Homo sapiens: one gene and its partner. The protein of the gene in region 1 interacts with the protein of each later gene in a biochemical or structural test. Each region holds a gene or a part of one and is shown on either strand. Other genes may lie near its edges.

Region 1 (3,500 bases):
GACCCTGCTAGCCCCAAGTCCTGCCCCCAGCACAGGCCAGGTACTCAGCAGGGTCATCACTGTTCTGGAAATCCCCTTGCAGGGCATAGAAAGTTCTCAGCGAACACCCATGGAGTAAAACAAGAGGCGGCCTTCACCCTTAGGTGGATTGTAATATTTTAGCACTAAATGCAAAAAGTTCTTTTATGATGGATGCTACAAGATGTAGTTGATGGCTGATAAGAAACATGAAAGTACATGTGCAACCAGTCAGCAATGGTATGTATGTAGGTAGGTAGGTAGGTAGGTAGGTAGGTAGGTAGGTATGTATGTACCTACCTACTTACCTACTTTAGAGATGAGGTCTCACTCTGTCACCCAGGCTGGAGTGCAGTGGTGTGACCACAGCTTGCAGCAGCCTTGAACTCCTGGGCTCAAGCAATCCTCCCGCCTCAGCCTCCAAAGTAGCTGGGACTACAGGCACGTGCTACCACACCCAACTAAGTTTTTAAATTTTTTGTAGAGATGAGGTCTCACTATGTTTCCCAGGCTGTGTGCTGGATTTTGGAAACTGCGTCAAGAAGGGTGGTGGGGAGGGACTGGCCTCCTCTCCAGAGCTCTAGGCACACAAGGACCTCTCATATCCTGCAGTCACTGGCCAGACCAAAGAGGCAGGGAGGGTCCCAGGAGGGAACCCACTACAAACTGTCCCAGTCATCCTGCCAGGCGCTTATGTCCAACCTCGAGCCCTGGGCCTGTTCTGCAAAAGCCTGAGTTGATGTTCTGGGTGGCTGTCAAACATGAAAGGCCTCTTCCTCTCCATCTCTGTCTCCCTTTCTCTCACACAGGCACGCCCCCGCCCAACATGGAGAAGCCCCATCTTTCCTCTAGGCACCTTTTTGGGCACCTGATTCCCTGGGATTCTGGCAAAGGCCCGAGAGTTCTCCCGGACCTTGTGCTTCTTGAGCCCAGGTGCCTCCCACTCAGTAGTTGGTTCCAGGCTCCTCACCTGATCCCACCGTGGAGGCACCTGGGCTGCTTCAAAAGCCCAGATTCCTGGCTCCAGCAATGGGAGTGAGAGGGGTTTCCCAGAGGATTCTGACACTTGGTCTGAGTGACGAACTCTCGTGTAGATGACGTGTTCCCCTTGCTACACCGACGGCATAGCAGTGAGGAACAGTGGAGAAAGGGCATATGTATGGGCTTGAGGTCAGAAGTTCCTGCTCTCACCTGCTGGATGGCACGTGACTTAACCTCTCTGATCTTGGTTTCCTCATTCACAAAACAGGGATGCCACCACCTAACTGACAGGGGCCAGGAAAGGCTGGTGGGTAGTGAAACCAGCTTAGGCCTCTTGCCTCCCCTCTGCCCATGTCCTCTTCCTGGAGTGCAGCCTCTCTCTACCTCATTCCGTCTCTCTCTGCAAATCCTGGTTGGGAATCTCCTCTCCAAACACCGAGGCAGGGCAGGCCCTCGGCAATCACACCCCCCAGCCCTCACCCCTCATGGCTGACCAAAGGAGGGGAGGTGGGGCCGAGGGCTGAGCCCCTCCCTTCCTGTGAACTTTTAAATCACAAGACGATGACGCTGTCTGGTTTTAAGTCCTGTGACTCCAGGACCTTCCAGGCAGAATCACTTATCTACACCTGCGGAGCATGTAATAGTTTACACAATGATTTCTCATTAACCCATGGGGCAGAAAATCTCCGCTTCACAACAGAAATGGAAGGGCACCCATGATGCCACAGTGCCTGGTCACGGTCTCTCCTTGGCCAAAGACCACCCTTCTGCCACCCCTGGCTCCACAGCCTCTGCCTCACTTTCGGGGCCTGTCACTGTGGAGACTGCAGGGCCCCTCCATCCTCCCTCCCACCTGGCTCCCCCAGACAAGCGCTCCCAGCCTGCAGTCCCTCCCCCAGGTCTCTGCCCCCAGCCCCTCTCCCTACACAAGCAGAGCAATCCTTCTAAACCATCTCACCCTCCTCACCTCCTCCCTGATCCCACCCAGGCTCAGGCCTTCCTGAGTGGCTCCTGGTCAGCAGCATCCTAAGCTCCTTACTCAGCCTGGCTGTCCAGGCCACTGGTGATTTGGTCCTCATAACCCTCCATACCAGCTCACACCACACCCATTCACACCCACCACTGGCCACAACCATTCACACCTGCCACCAGCCACACCCATTCACACCCACCACTGGCGACGCCCATGTTGGCACAAGCAGCTCCCTGCAGCAATCCCAGCTGTCCTTGTGTCTCTGAGCACCAAGAGCTGTCTCTTACCCCTGGCTTGCCCAGAGCCTGGCTCTGTCCCTTGACTGAGCAGGTACAGTGGCTATGGTGAGGCGAGGTGCTAGGGCACTCACCTGTGGCCTTCTTGAGGACAGGGGTGTGTTTTATTGGTTATTTATCCCTCTATCCACCCATTCACCCAAGCAGTTACAGAAGGCTATATGCCAGACACGTCAACAACTGACACGGTGACACTCGACGTGTAAAAACAAGTGTACAGTTTACCTTAAGAACATCTTGCTTGCACTTTTCTATTTTGTCTTGCAATTTCTTGAGCTGTTCAGGGTTGAGGGATGGGTCTGCCTTGCTGTTGGCTTCTCGTGAGATAGCCAGCTTCTCCTCTTTGCACGCTGCATGGTGGGCTTTCTTTGCTGCTTCTACCTACAGGGAGAATGAGTTCCTGAATGCCATGTCACTGGGAGTTCAGGATCCTCACTAGAAGTCACACAGACCATGGGAATGCTTGTGCTACCAAGAGGGGAGAAAAAGGCAGGTACAAAATTGTATGTATACTATCATAGCAACCAGTCACAACAGGAACGCACTCAACACATATTCATGGAGTACTTGCTTGTCCTGTGCATGGTTCGAGGCACCAGGAACACAGCAAGAAACACAAGGTCTTTGTGAAGCTTTCATTTGAGTTGCAGGAGGCAGATACAGTATAGGAAAAGTTACATGCCAGAGTCAATTAGAGGGCATTAAGTGTAGGGGAGGACAACTGAGACGGAGCATGGGGTGGGTGGAGAAAGCCACTGAGATGACATGGAACACGCACATGGAGCACGCACATGGAACACGCACATGGAGGGGTTATGGGCATCCCAGGAAGACCATGCCAGGCCGCAGGATCGGCAAATACAAAGAAAGTTCCAAGGAGGAACCCAGCATGAGAGAGAGGACCATACTAGGGGGCAGGGCCATCAGCCACATTTCCTCTGGTTTTAATGGTTTTTACACACACACACACACACACACACACTCTTAACAGATCCTTCCTTATTTGAGCCAAAGCCACAAATTTCATTCTAGAGGGAAGGAGGAGTTTATTAGCAAAGGCCTCATGAGACACAGACAGTTTCATTATGAATGGGGCCAGGGACAAAACAGAAGAGAAAGGAGATGTGACAAAAGCTAAGACACAGAGAAAAGGAGACACAGAGAAAACCATCCGGAAGGACAGAGGCATGTTCTGGATGATTCTGAGGCGGAGGAAGGCAGCGCAAGGCCAG
Region 2 (3,500 bases), on another chromosome or scaffold:
CTGAGACCTTATCTTTTACATCCTGGTATTCTGCTTTTACTCTCTGGTATTCAATGTTTTTTAAAAAATGAATTCATAATACTTCAAGTGGTCATTATCAAATTAAAGAGCATTATACAGAGCTAAATTAGTTCTAAATACACCACAACAGTAGGTGTTCATTTTGAAAGGGGCTTCATATAACACATAAGCAATGTGAAATAATATTTTGAAATAAGAATGAAAGGTAAATCTTAAAGTAGGACATTAACAAATATTCTAGACAAAATGTACTGCCTCTAGGAAAAATGTTAAGGTCCGATTGTATACTTAGTCAACTGTGAATCCAGAATTAAAATATAATAAGTATTAGTGATCTTCACCCTATGTATTCTTTCTTCATGTTAGAAAAATATCAAAGAATATTGTTTCCTAAGTCTCATCTGTCAATCATTAATTAAAAATAGGAACACAATAAACTGTATAATTTGATCATAGATACTAAACATTACTTACTAATGTATGGTACATGTTTCCACAAGGATTAACATGTAAAAGATACTAAATATTACTAATGTATGGTACATGTTTCCACAAGGATTAAACTGTCATCTAAAATCTTAAAAGATTAATAATTGTCAAAAAGCTTACCATTTGGGGGATCTCGTCTTTTCTCTGTTAGAAAATAAATTAGAAGAATATTATTAAATATATGTAAGACAACATCAACATAAAAAAATTAATTCACTAAACTGTCTTATTCCTAAATTGACATACGTGTGACTAAGGAAGATTTTTCAGAAGACCCGACATTTAAGTAGAGATCTAAATAAAATAAGTAAGGGAACAATACATTCAAAGGCCCCAAGGAGGGTGCAACATGAAAGAACATCATGAAGACTGGACTACAGTGAGCAAATGGCACAGTGAAAGGAGACAAGAAGGAAAGTCAGGGACTAGATCATGTAGGGTTCCACAGGCCATGGTTAAGGACTATAGATTTTATGTGTATATGATAGGAAGCTCTTACAGAATTTTAAATAGAGAAAGTGATATAACCTAATCTACAATTCTAAAAGTTTACTCTGGCTACTGTATAGAAAAGAGATAGTAAAAAGGATTGAGTAGCAGCAGGAAGACCAGTCAGAGAGCTAGTGTGGCAGCCCAGCTGACAGATCATGGTGGCCTGGATTAGGATGGTAGCAGCAGAAATGGTAAGAAATAGTCAGACAGGACATGTTTTTGAAGGCAGAGTCAATAGGACTCTGATAGGATTTATGAGGGACCATGGTGAGCCTGAGGGATAAGATGGAACAAATGCCTTTTACTGAAACAAGGAAGATTAGTAGAAGAATAGGAACAGATCTGAGTGGGGCTAAGGTTCAGGATACAGGACATGGATCAAATATTCTGCTCAGACCGTGTTAAGTCTAAAGGCTATTCTGCCACTTGAGTAGACAGAGTCTGAAGGTCAGGGAAGATGTGTCAGTACTGAAGAAAAAACTTTGAGAGTCATTGGCATACAGTTTTTGGAACTATAGGACTGGATGAAAGCACATGTTCTTTCTTCTGAAACTCATCTGCTTAAGATGATTTTGGAGAGGTTCCCCTTTCCTAGTCACCCTTCTCCACTTTACAAGAGAAACACCTGGTTCACTGTTGTCAAGTAATAGTTCTACTCCAATTAACTTAAAGCTTTATACTATCCTGCATTGTTCTATAATTGTTTTATATGTGTTAGAGTTGTTTCACACACTAAACTAAGTTCCTTATGGGTTTTATAGTATATAGCATTAGGAACAAAATAGAAAGACAAGGCAATGTTTACAGATCTTGTTAGCAACTCTGCTTATTTGCTTCTAAGCTTACCTAAAGTCTTTGTTTACAAAGTATAAAATACTTTTAAAACTTTACAAAAAATGCTATCACAAATGCAAAATTAAAAGTCAATATATATGAAATTTTATCAACAAAAAAGGTTATTGTATTGGGCCCTTCGGTAAATCTAAAAAAAATAGTTCTCAACAAAAATATTATTTATTTTAAGGTAAGGACCACCAAATTTTTTTGTAAATAGTAAATATTTCAGATAATAATTTTGGCTTTGAGGACCATATATCACTGTCATCACTATTTAACTGTGTTGTGACAAAAAATAGCCAAAGACAACATGTAAACCAATGAATACAGTTAAGTTTCAGTAAACTTTTATTTACAAAAAACAGGAAATGGACCACACTTGCCCCATGAGCATTAGTTTGCTGGCCTGATTTAAGTAATTAAAAAAGGGTTACCAGATTTCCTTTGTCGACGGCCCAAAAGGTCTGTAACTGCTTTTCGAAATTTTTTTGCTTCTTCTTCATTGGCAAAATTAAGAGCAACTTGACAAGTCTGAAATATTTTCATCACAAAGGGGAAACAACAGAATGTATGAATTTAGCTTTATATCATAAAAACAATGAGGAAAAGAAGTATATTTCTAAAGAACGAAAGGTTAATTTTACTAGCAGATAAGACATTATTTTATGATCTGAATAACTTAACACAAAAGCATGAAGAAGTTCAAGTAAAAGATTACTATTAGAGAAGTTACCTATCACAGCAGACACATATACTAATTTGAATATTTCATCTTCAGCAAAAAAATAAAATAGCAAATTGAATTTGATCTTTCAATAAGGTTCTATAAATAATTTGGATTAGAAAAGGCAAGCAATGAAAAAAGTAAAGATGGCAATAAAGAAAAATATGACTTACATCTCCAGCAAAGGTATGAAAATATCCTCTAGGACTATTATATACAAAGTTATTGTATAGCTCTTGTTCCCACAATAGTTTCCCATCCTAGAAAAAAGTTAAAAATTAAAATAAGAACTACCAAAACATAATCTCTAGGAATAAAACAAAGAAGATGACTCATATTAAGAAAACTGTTTATATTAAAAATAACTTTTAATGCACACATGTAACATATTTATAATATATAAATAGTGTCACATAATCTAATCAGTAATTTCTTAAAACTGAAAACACTGGATAACGTATCTTTCATAAAACCTACATATCAAGTCAGTTTAATTCAGCTAAGATATAATCTCACTAGCCAACCATTTCCAAATTCAGCTACTTGGTCAAATACATAATAACCAGAATAATTACTAGGTCATCAATGTTACATAGAAGGAATAGGATACTTTTGTACATGAACTGATTACCAAAGCACAGTTCCACCAGCAATATTTAGACAATGTACTATCAAACACTGCAGGAATACTTTATGTTCTTTTCCTCAATTTTATAGATGTGGGAGGGTCAAATATACCTTCCTTGTACTGCTAATTAACCATCTTCAAATTCTTAACTTTTGCAGAGTACCTTTCTAATTATATACTAGTATAAGTAGTATTAATCATGATGCAGAAAGAGACTGATAATTAAAATGTATCAAGGTTAAACTATGGATAAGAGTGCCATGATGGCTGCCATATCTATTGCCATAGTATAAAAAATATGTTTAATCT

What was found. The genes of interacting proteins can lie anywhere in the genome.
Region 2: the proteins of PACSIN2 (region 1) and WASL form a complex in vitro, tested with the Homo sapiens proteins (one study listed by BioGRID).

The regions. Positions count from the first base shown.
Region 1 is NC_000022.11:42,886,150-42,889,649, forward strand, and holds part of PACSIN2 (protein kinase C and casein kinase substrate in neurons protein 2), read right to left. Parts: intron 2,650-3,500; coding exon 2,494-2,649; intron 1-2,493.
Region 2 is NC_000007.14:123,704,004-123,707,503, forward strand, and holds part of WASL (actin nucleation-promoting factor WASL), read right to left. Parts: intron 2,824-3,500; coding exon 2,737-2,823; intron 2,371-2,736; coding exon 2,274-2,370; intron 655-2,273; coding exon 631-654; intron 1-630. UniProt on the Homo sapiens protein: Regulates actin polymerization by stimulating the actin-nucleating activity of the Arp2/3 complex. Involved in various processes, such as mitosis and cytokinesis, via its role in the regulation of actin polymerization.